Linked DNA regions of Homo sapiens: region 1 is linked to region 2. A link means that fine-mapping ties the variant in region 2 to the expression of a gene that starts in the linked region. Tissue or cell type: whole blood. Region 2 holds a variant in brackets; the other region holds the start of a gene. All regions are shown on one strand. Distances are from middle to middle.

Region 1 (5,477 bases), 29 kb after region 2:
CACCACCAGGACCCCAAAGGCCCAGCCTGTGCACTTACCATGCCTTGACTGCGGGCCAGAGGCGAGCCCAGGTCAGCAACGATGGCCGTGGAGAGGCTGACGTTCCCTTTGCTGATGCCCCCAATCAGCCTGGAGGCCAGGAAGGCCGCAAAGCTCCGAGAGGTGGCCCAGACTGCATATGAGGTGGCCACACCCATCTGCCCAGGGGCAGGGGCCAAGAGGCAGGGGCGGTCGCTTAAGGCCAGGAGTGGCTCAGAGTAGGGCTTGGCAACCCAGACAACACCCCTCAACCCTGCCCTATTTCGAAGCATCTGAGGGCCACTTGCGTTCTCAGTGCCTTCCTAGGGGCCAGGAGCAGCTCCTTGAAAGCCTGGCTCTGGAACAGGAGCCACTGGTCCCCCGAGAACCCCCTCCAGGATGCGATGAGGGCCAACCAGTGGCCATGAGGGGCCCACAGCCACCTCCCTCTCCCCACCTAACCCCATGGGGCTACTGGCTGGGTGGGAGGAGGCTTCCCCATGGGCACCCAGGCCCAGGAACATACCAGGCACAGCAGCATCACCGGGCGCCTCCCCAAGCAGTCAGAGGTGGCCCCAGTGAGTGGCGCACACAGAAACTGCAGGACAGAGAATGCCGAGCCAATGAGACCTGAGAGACAGATGTCACCATCATGGGGCTGCCTGGCACCATGAGCTGTGGTCTTGGGGCCCTCAAGGCCAATGTCCAGCCCCGTCCTGAGGGTCCAGTCATGCTGGGCCCTACACTCACAGGCCATGGCCCTTGAGCCGAGGGGGCCCCAATGGAGAGATGAGGAAGGATCTGAACGTGACACGCGGAGGCAAGGGATCATGCCCAGAAGCCAGGACATGTGGGCAAGGGCACCAGACATGCCAGCCCAGGGAGTGGGAAGGCAAGGACCGAGAATTGGGGAGGGGCCTGGGCTGGACCACGTCCACCAAACATAGGACCGTAGAGAGCCCGCCAAGGGCACAGAGCCAGCCATACCTCCGAACAGGACACTGTTGTACCTCTTCTCCACTGGCATCCCGATGGCGGTGGCAAACCAGTCCACCCCGCCCTGCCAGGAGCCATAGAGGGGGTCCTAGGGGATGAGGAATCACGATAAGGGCTGGGGAGGTCTGATGGGCCTGGGGGGCAGGGGGCACTGTGGGCCGCAGGGCAAGGACTCACGTGGGCACGGCCGTGGCTCTCCAACAGCCCGGGCAGCAGGGGCAGCAGCAGCGTGAAGGCCAGGAGGTCCAGCAGGAGGCCGAGAAAGACAACGGTGACCACGCGGCGCTCCGGCGGCTGCTGGTGGATGGGTGGGCGCGGGGTGCAGCCTCCACCCCCTCCCCATCCCATGGTGGGCTGCTCTGACCTGGCCTGGGTGGGGTGCGGCGGGTCGGGTTAGCGGGGAAGCCGAGTCCTCCGGGGCCTGGCATACCCCCACACCCGACAGCCGGCGAGCACCCTAAAGGGGCTGATGGCAGGGGCTCTGGCCTACGGACGCAGGGGCCGTTCTGGCCTGCGCGATGCCCCCGCCCCGAACCCAGGCAGCAGGAAACGCAGGCTTCGGGGATTGCACAAAAAATAGCCGCAAAGGCAACGGTCCTGAGAGACCAGGGTGAGCACATCGCGGACCTGGCCCCACCCCACCCCACGGCCGCGCCTCCCACGCCCTCGTAACAGCGAGAGAAAACTTGAAGCCGCGGGGAACCCGGATCCCGATCCCGATCCCGATCCCGATCCCAACCCCAACCCCAGCCCCGGCCCGCGCCCCGCGATTCCGGCCCCTGGCCCGGACTCGGTCTCCCTGGCGGGGGCCATGGGGTGCACACCGGACGCAGGAGCACCCCCAACCCCGCGCGCCTCCCACTCCGCCATCCCGCGTGCGTCCCGGTCCCGCCCCCACCCCGCGCGCCCCCGGTCCCGCCCCCCACCCTGCGCGTCCCCGGTCCCGTCCCCCACCCTGCGCGCCCTCTAACCCCCACGCCGCGCGCCTCCCACCGCCCCCACCCCGCGCGCCCCTGGTCCAGCCCCACACCCCGCGCGCCCCCTACTCCCCTACCCTGCGCACCTCTCACCCGCCCCACCCCCGCGTACCCCGGGTCCCGTCTCCTCCCCCACCCCGCGCGTCCCCTGTCCCACCCCCAACCCGAGCGCCCCCTACGCCCCCCACCCCGGGCGCCCCCGGTCCCGCCCCGCACCTGCCGCGGCTGCGCGCTCGGGACGGACGGTCGCACAGACGCGGAACAGGGCACCAGGCACGCCGCCAGGGGCGGGACGGCCACGCCCGGCCACGCCACGCCCCGGAAGTGACGTACATCTCTGCACGTTCTCTTCCGGCCGGAGTCAGTGGCGGGGTTCTCGCCGGTCCTGCGGGTCGCTGCTTGGCTGTGGGTTAGCAGCACCCTGAGCGGAGCGGAAGAGCTGCCCGCCGCCGCGTAACCCCGAGGCCGAGACTCCTGGCCTGGCCTCCTTGGGCCCACGACGCCTGCCCCGCGGAGCGGACCCATGGGCCTGAGGTTTGTGTGCGGGGCCTCAGGCGAGCGCTGGCGCAGCCTGTCCCCCATCGTCTGCGCCCTGCGGGCCTGGCCCTCCCCGTGGAAGGACCGCGGGCTTCGGGGCCCCACGCTGGGGGGCTGACTCCTGCCACACACACAGCGGTGGCCGCGGGCCTGGGGCGGCAGCACAGCCATTCTGCTCGGGCTGCGTGAGCTGACCCCGCTCTCTGTGCACCTACTTTTGCTGCGTTTGGTGCTGAGCCTGAAGTCCCAGGACAGGCGGCTGAGGGGGAAAGATGGTGTGAATTGGGTGGGCAGAGACAACTGAAAGCCACAGGACCCGGTTGGCACCTTTTTGGCCGCCTGCGCCTTTGCCTGCAGCCCCGCTCCCTGGGTCACCCGAAGGAGGAGCTGGCGCTCTTTCCGGGCGCAGAAGCACCCGACCCACGCTGGAGGAAACGGTCCCTCTGGGCAGGAGAAGCTTTGGGCCTGGCTGGAGCACACTCACGGAACCACGCCAACGCCTGGCCTGTAGCCAGCTCCCACCTCCCCTCCCACCTTCTAAAATGCTTGCGGATCTCACGTGGCCGACCCTAACCAGATACACATGGGGAAAGGAATCAGGTGGCACACATACCGCCTTTACTCCATAGAGAACTTCCAATTGTGGGTAAGAACAAAGCCCCACCTCTTCCTAATAGATGCAGTTTTCCACCTGCAGCCAAAAAGACAACCTGTTATTAGCTTTTTTCCCAGAGGACAGGCATCTCTATGAAACTGCCATTGCAAAATTTGCCGACAGTGAGATAACCAGCTCCATTTTGCTTCTAACCTCCATGCCCTCCTTGTTTACTGCTGCACGCAGGTTGAACTGTGGGAGGAACTTAGTTTAAAACAAAGATGATAACAGCCCTTTCCCAAAGGAAACCTTTCCTGGGGATTAGCCTGCTTTTGTGGGACCAACAGATTAGCCACAAGATTAGAAACTACGGTTGAAGAGTCACGCAGCGGGAGGCTACAGGATTCTGACCCTCCCCAAACTGCTCCTGGCGATAACATCACCATCGTAAAGCCTAAGATCAGCACTTGGTGGGTCACCTGGCACCACCCAGGCTCATCTGATGTTGTGGCACCCAGGAACTGACTCAGTGCGAAAACAGCTTCGACTCCCTGTGATTTCATCTCTGACCTGACCAATGGGTACTTCTGACTCACTGGCTGCCCCCCACCCACCAGCTTATCTTTAAAAACTCCAAACCCCAGATGCTCAGGGAGACCGAGTAATAATAAAACTCCAGTCTCCCACACAGCTAGCTCTGCGTGAATTACCTTTTCTCTGTTGCAAATGCCCTTTCTTGATAAATTGGCTGTCTAGGTAACAGGGAAGGTGAACCCACTGGGCAGTTACACTTTTATCCACCCTTCCAGCTGGATCACGCGCCCTCTTCAATGACATGACACGCAGCTAGAGTGTATGAGCTTGCTGCCGGCACCTTCCGTCCTGGATCGCATAGCAAGGCCTCAATGGACAGCCAGGTGCCTGGTCCGGTCCCACTTTTTTTTCTGTCCTGTTCTCGTTTCCTCTTTGCTTGGCCAAAGAGGGTTGGGCCAGGGTCCTGAGTGCAAAGGCTTGGCTTGGTGAATTAAAGTGGCAGTAGCCGTGTGGCAGAGAAAATTTGTAGATGGGTGAAATCCTGGGCCTACACAGTGACAAAGTGTATATAGACAGCCAGCCTAGTTGGTGGATGTGACAACCCCAGACTCTTCTAGATTTGTGGATCCGTGCACCTGCCAGACCTGTCTCTGAGCCATCTGGGGAGGCTGGGTAAGATTTCCCCCGTCAGGGCCTGAGCCTCATCTCCAAGCTGCTGGCTTCAGCCCAGCTGCCACCAGCGCTGTCTCTGTCTTGCGCTTTCCAGAGAGAGACTGACTCATTTTGAGCTCCAGGCCTACCAGGCAGCCCAACCGCGGCAGTAACTGCCTCTCACACTGAGGATGGCTCATGCTCTGGTCCAGCCATGGCTTGAACACCTCCCAACAAGAACAAAGCCAGACTCATTCTCCCTAGCATCTTCTTCCTTGCTCAAAGATCCCACACCCCGTTAGAAGCTGGAACTGGGTCCTTGTCACCTTCCTCACCTCCCCAGTCGTAGTCTGGTTAATCCTTACATCTCACCACGGTCACCGTGGCTAGATGTGACCTCCGCGATGCTTCAGGCACGTACCAGGGCAGCCTGGGCAGGGCTGGTCACTGTGATCTCATGAGGTGTGAACTTGACCCCGGCCTTCTTTCCTGGGATGCCGGCTAAGGACACAAGTTCAGTGTTTGCCCTGGCTTGTAGCCCAGCGGGGGCTCCGTCATCCCCTGGGGAATGCCTCGGCCTGCAAGACCGCATACCGCATTGGAACAGGGAAACCACCTACTTCAGCACCTCCCTCAGCAAGGTGGCAGGTCCCAACAAGCCTTGCACCACGAGGAAGTGGCAGTGGCATTCGGGATATGGCTCCCTGGCCAGCTTGTGAAGTTCAAGGGGCTCGTTACTTCTTACAGCTCACAGTCCCTCCCGGGTCCAGCACACCTGAGGGCTGACCTCCCTCTTGATTAGTGCAGGGGAAAAGCACTTTAAAAAGCTGTGTCATGCGTAACTTGCACATCTTCTGATTCTGACCTGAAACTGCATCCCAGGTCGGCACAGACGCAACCCAGTCTCCTCCCACCTCCGAGAGTGCAGTGTCCTGAATGGAGAACCCCAGCACCCAGAAGCATCCACTGAAGGACGTAAGTAGGACAAGGCCAACTGTGGCTGTTCCAGCAGAGGGACTGTGGGTGATGTTTCCCTTCTCTGATTTCTAAAATATCTGCAAACTTGTTTCATTTATAATTGAAAATATAATTTGCATAACAACAGTAAATTCTACACATGAAGGCAAACGTCCGTGGTTGACAGAAATTACACTGGCCAGAATCCCCAG
Region 2 (5,990 bases):
AAGCAAGTCAGAGATCTCACCTGTGCTCAAGGTGGGAGGGGATTACAGGAGCTGGGGGCCTGGGGCCACTGTGAAGTCTGTCTGTCACACTTACCAAGTGTGGCCAGGAGAGATGCAGAGGACACCGTCCATGCCCTTAGAGATGCTGTCTGTGGGAGGACTCTGCAGATGAGTTGGTCCAGTAGAGGCATGAAGTAAGTGGGGCTGTCTTTTACCACAGAGCACATGGTCATGAGGCAGAGCTGGAGGTGAATTTGAATGTTGTTGTATTCAGACGTAAAGTAATTTTGCTGAGAACCAGTTGTCATGAGGTATACTTACTTACCTTACTTACCTAAAGATTATCACAGTATTTAAACTGTAACTTAAGAGGTAAAAGTCTATTAAGTATGTTGATGAATATAACCTGCACAGTGGCTGGCAGCAAGTAAACCCTGTTTGGGTGTTCAACTTTAATTTTTTGTTGAAATATGTAAGCAGGAGAGTGCACCTACCGCAAGTGTTCAGTTTGTTCATTTTTAAAAACTGAACCCCCTGTATAACCAGCAGTCAATAAGAGCAACGGTAGCAGCACCTCAGAACACCCCCAGCACCTCCTTCAGTTCACTTGTCCCATCCCAGGGGTGACAACTGTCCTGTCTCCCAGGACAACCAAAACAAAGGTTGTTTTGCATCTTCTGCACTTTTAATGAATGGTATTACATGGTGTATGTTCTTTGCAGGTTGGTCTCTTTCACTCAGCGTTGCCTTCAGGAGAGTCATCCACGTGGTTGGTTTAGAGCACATTGTGTCACTATAAGCCTTCTTATGAAGACACTAGACTATCCATCTCCTATATGGATGGACTTTTGGGTTGTTTCCAATTGTGGTTTACGAGGAGTAGGGTTGCTGTCCACATTTTAGTACCTGGTTTTTGGTGAACACATTTGCTTCTGTGGGGTGTAAAATTAGGAGTGGAATTACTGAGTCATAGGGTATGCATGTGTTCAACTTTTGTGGATGTTTCCACATGATTTTCCAAAGTGAAACCCTGTTTTGAGATCTGGAATATTGACTGTCTTTCACTCTCCTTGGACCCTAGGGCTACAGAACTGGCTACCCTTATCGATACCCTGCTCTGAGAGAGAAGTCTAAAAAATACAGCGATGTGGAGGTTCCTGCTAGTGTCACAGGTTACTCCTTTGCTAGTGACGGTGATTCGGGCACTTGCTCCCCACTCAGACACAGTTTTCAGAAGCAGCAGCGGGAGAAGACAAGATGGCTGAACTCTGGCCGGGGCGACGAAGCTTCCGAGGAAGGGCAGAATGGAAGCAGTCCCAAGTCGAAGACTAAGGTGTGGACGAACATTACACACGATCACGTGAAACCCTTGCTGCAGTCTCTCTCGTCCGGTGTCTGCGTGCCAAGCTGTATTACCAACTGCTTGGTCTGTGCCTACCTTACTGTTCATAGTTAGATGACGTAGAGCAAGTTGGGTAGCTGGGGCTTCGGAGGCTTTGGGAATCCAGCCTTTCTGACCCAGGTGTAAAGCGAACCTTCCTTATTCACTTTCTTGTAGTCTGAACCTAAGTCCACTGAATGCATTACTAAAATTCGGATAATACTATCTGCTTGAAACTGCTTAAGATGTAATGTAACTCCGCAGTAGTTCCAGTATATCTCCGTATATAGCAAAAATATACAATAATTTACATGTATTAACCTACAAATAGGAGCTCTTCTTATTTAATTCAAATTATATTCAGGGACTCTTAATACTTCATGCACAAAAAGACACTTCAGTCCTAAACCTGTATTTTAGTGTTGTGAACTCCAGTGGTTTCAAGTCACTAAAGTTTCTTAAGTCTTCAGTGTTTTCTTAAGCAGTTTTCCCTTGTGGCTCCCTGGCGTGTTCTCTGCTGACTCTTGTCCCCTGCCCTTAGTGTTATTCCCCTGCTTTCTATCCCAAAGCCTCCGAATGCACACCCCCAGCTGCCCTCTGCATGGACTGTTGCATGTGAGTAGACGGCCATAGTGGCGAGTCACCTTCTGACTCCTGTTGGGTGCGGCATGACCCAAGTGCAGCGCAGGCCATCTGCAGGCACCAGCGACAGACGCTGCAAGGGGTGCTTCGTTTCAGCGTTAATGCCGCTCAAGTTATCGTTTGTCCTGAGAGGTGCTCCCATGTCGTGGTGCTGAGACCTCCTCTGAAGATGGGTCTTTATTCCTCCTGTAACCTACCTCTAACAGTCCACCCAGCTCTGCTTTAAACTGTATGTAGAAGAGGCCCATTTCCAGAAGCCCCTGGAATGGAGGAGACAGGGGCTGAAGCAGACTCATCTGTGCATGACTAGTTCATTAGGAGTTCAGTTGAAATTAGATTAGATGCTCCTAAAACCATGGGCAACCAAATACATAAAGTGGGGCTTTCTTTTCCCCTTGTAACAGTGTTTTACTTTATAGATTTATTTAAAGAAAAAAAGTTTTATCTTCCCCAGGTGGTCCTGGTGTTTTCCTGACGCAGTTGGTGAGAAGCCTCCGTGCTCCTGAGCGGCCGCGTCACCTGGGCAGGGACCCTGTGTGGCCATGGGGCTCTGAGCATGGGAGTGCGTCTCTCCTCTTCTTTCCTGCCCTCCTTGTCTTCTTTCCCCCCTTCTTCCTGTCTCCCCTTTTCTTTCATTTGTTTATTTTTTACTTGTTTCACTTGTTAAAGGAAGTGGGCGTTATAAAA[C/CA]AAAAAAAAAAAACCCCAAAACACCTTTCTGCGGCTGATGTGAAGCACAGTGCTGAATTGCCATGAGGAAGTTTTCCAAAGCGTTTAGGCAGCAGCGCGAGCTTTATTTACCATTAGCTTGCAAAACAACTAAGTCACTTTAGGCCTAGTAGTCAATGTGTACATCCAAGGGGAGGCCTTGCTCCGCATTTATATTTGTTTCTTACTGTTCTGGAGTGACAGAGTCCATGCAGTGCTCCCAGGTTGGTATCTTTTCATTTATAATGATTGCTGTTACTTTTTCAAATGTGTTCAAGTTTCTGAGGTTGCTGTTTGAAATGCTTTGACTAAAAATTATTTTTAATAAAACGCTGGAGTTGTTTTTATCTGAGAAGATAACCATCAGTGAGTACCCAGAGCTCCATGCCCATTCCACACTCTCCTCGCAGTGGCTCAGCATTTGCTGGTTTTGTTGCTTTTTTTAAAGTCGTATGGTTTATGGCTATCTTATTGCCTCTCGAAAGTATTCTGAAAGGCATAACATTTGCTCTCGAAGATGGGCTTGTTTTAATGTTCAGTGCCTACTCATGCCTTAGAATTTGATTAAAAATCTCAGATTTGATTGGAGATCCAAAAAAAAATTATGGGTGGAAGGCTCAGCATGCTGACGAGATGCACTGATACTAAAACAGCCTTTAAATATTAAGGACTCATGAAGCGCTTCAAGTTTGTTTGGGATATTTTTGTAGCACTCAAAAATATTAAGTTATATAAAATATTCGACATCACCAAACTCTTCTTCCAGGTAGCTACCGTGTAAGTGTCCATACAGTAATGTTCTTGGGTTGAAAGTTACGCAGACAGTGCATTCTGATGCTGTCATTTACTTTAATGCAAAACTTTGGTGATGCCCACTCTTGCCTCACGGTGCAGGCTCCTCCCTAACCCTGGGTAGCAGCATCACATTGCTTTTCATGACCCTGTCATCTCATGCTTCCAGTTGGCTTTGGTGTTGGATGATTTTCAGAGCAGTGAACCAATGGTCTCTGAGGGGCCTCCCCTGCTGGTCCCAGGGTTATGGGGCTCAGCTCTGTCGTCAGCCTACCTTATGACCCAGATTCAGCTGGGCTTTCCAGATGGTGGTTTTCCATCAGTCATGACTTTGACTTCCAGCATTAACTGGTCTTTATGTGGCTGCATCCTGCTCCCATGGCGACTCTGCTGAGTGACCCAGATTAGATGTGGTCATTGGTTCAGTCCTCTCTGTGATGTTCAGTGCATGACCAGATGTGAGATAAACTGAATAGATTGGATGCTATGTCACTTATTGTTGTCATAATTCTGACTTTTCAACTGTTCTTGATATTACAGTGGACTAAAGAGGATGGACATAGAACTTCCACCTCTGCTGTCCCTAACCTGTTTGTTCCATTGAACACTAACCCAAAAGAGGTCCAGGAGATGAGGAACAAGGTGCGTCCTGCGTCGGCACTCAGCGGGGGCTTGGGTGTGGGATTGGAAGGGATGCCAGCTGCTTTGGGGGGAGCGGGTGCTTGCTTCTAGCAGAGGGCATCTGCTGTTGTTGCCACTGTTGCAGTGAAGCCATCTCTTCACACCGCTGCTGTTCTACCACCAGTGTGAAGTATGAGCAGCAGACATTTTTTGGGCCCTATTGATTCTTGAACTGATGTTTGCTCACGATGTTTGCTCACCGGTCAGAATTGGAAGCTGCAAAACCTGTTCTTAGCAAGAGCAGACTGCTGTCCCTTTCAGGGTTCGTTCAAAGACTTGTGAGTGGCATTTGGTGTATCAGAGCAGGAGCCCTGCCAGTGCTCACATCACTAGACGATGGACATGCAGCGAGTGTTTCCCCCAAGTTAATGACAGTGAGAGATAGGTGTCCTGCCCAAGCATCTGGAAGATGTGGGGAGCTGGGAATAGTCTCCATCCCTGCAGACCCACGCCCCACTAAGCAGGCATGGCGGTCACTCAGAACACATGGGGCCATCCTGCCTGCGTGGGGCAGTGGGAGAGCTGAAATGTAGCTTCCATGTGGCTGGGGCCCAAGTGCACAAGCAGCAGGGCTCCCAGGCAGCATGGCTGCTCAGGACTGTTGATGTGTGCCTCTCCTTCCCACCCTCAGATCCGAGAGCAGAATTTACAGGACATTAAGACGGCTGGCCCTCAGTCCCAGGTTTTGTGTGGTGTAGTGATGGACAGGAGCCTCGTCCAGGTGAGAGCCCAGAGTGTCTCTGACTTTAGTGGGTGGTGGCTGTGTGACCGCCTGCTCCAAAGTTATTCTGAAATTGAGAGAGTGACTTTATGAGGTAAGTATTCTAGGCAACCAGTTACCTTTGTTAAAACCTTCATGATGAGAAACGGTTCAGGCACTTTTCGTTGAGTTCTAGAAGGAGCGAGCATGCTGAGGGCTGTGTCCACCCCTCTGGTCATGCCCCTTGTAATGCATGCATATGTGAGGGTGGCACATACACCACCAGCTTTGGGGCTCAGATTCGGCCCGGGTTCAGCAGCGTTCTGTGTAAGGCGCTAGGAGAGGGTGGGTTTAGGGACTCTTGTTCTGGTACATATTGCTGTCTGCAACAAAGTGCTGCTTGGGTTGCAGAGGGGTGGGTGCCTGTAAGTGTGGTGCACATTTACACACATTTCTACAAAATGACTCTACCTTGTGGCACATTGAAGATAATTGTGTAAGTAGTTATCTCTGAAAACTAATATGCCACCTAATGCTTTAACACCTGACTCTGCAGGGGTAGACGATTGTTGGATTTGTCCAGCCGTGGTCCTGGTTTCGTGTTCAGTGTCTGCACGTCCTGCCATCATCACTGCCACACTTACTGTTGACAGCTGTCCCTGCTGCATGCTCTTAGCCAGCTCCATCCTGTGCTCTCAGCTGATATTTCACAGGCTGGGCCTGGTGTGCTCTGGTGACTCAGTTTACTGTTTCAGGATGCACCTCTCTCTGACTGTACGGAAACTATCGAAGGGCTCGAGCTTACAGAGCAGACCTTTAGTCCCGCTAAATCTCTCTCTTTTAGAAAGGTACTCACTGCCCTGTCCTCACTACCTGTCTATGCGCCTTGCTCCCCTCCCCTCCCCCCTCCCCGTCTCCTCTCTTCAGGCATTGTCTTAGTTACTGAAGTAGCTTCAAATGGATCTTTAACCTGTTTGTGAGATTGTACAGAAGGTTCTGTTCTACCTACTTGATTCTTTAATTAAAACATTTGCTATGAGGTGTGATAACAATTTCCAGCATTCGAAGTTGTTACTGAGAAATGGCCAG

The links. PIP is the estimated chance that this variant, and not a neighbour inherited with it, causes the effect.
Region 1: NOP14-AS1 starts here. The variant in region 2 is fine-mapped to the expression of NOP14-AS1 in whole blood (INTERVAL, PIP above 0.99).

Annotation. Positions count from the first base shown.
Region 1 is chr4:2,932,562-2,938,038 of GRCh38, forward strand. NOP14-AS1 (NOP14 antisense RNA 1) reads left to right here and starts at 2,985. Exons shown (of 4, transcript NR_015453.2): 1 at 2,985-5,477. It overlaps SLC75A1 (solute carrier family 75 member 1), which reads right to left and starts at 2,264. Exons shown (of 13, transcript NM_001146069.2): 1 at 2,208-2,264; 2 at 1,192-1,383; 3 at 1,006-1,102; 4 at 545-648; 5 at 39-197. The coding sequence starts at 1,362. NOP14 (NOP14 nucleolar protein) reads right to left here. Exons shown (of 18, transcript NM_001291978.2): 18 at 5,375-5,477. RefSeq lists enhancers at 505-734, 755-884, 977-1,844, 3,102-4,301, 4,104-4,343 and 1 more and silencers at 1,685-1,904, 2,134-2,443, 2,604-2,713.
Region 2 is chr4:2,903,683-2,909,672 of GRCh38, forward strand. ADD1 (adducin 1) reads left to right here. Exons shown (of 16, transcript NM_001354761.2): 10 at 1,082-1,426; 11 at 4,061-4,162; 12 at 4,833-4,922; 13 at 5,657-5,749. Among named protein-coding and RNA genes, the nearest start is that of SLC75A1, 28 kb to the right of the region's middle. The variant C/CA (reference allele first, on the strand shown) is at 2,711.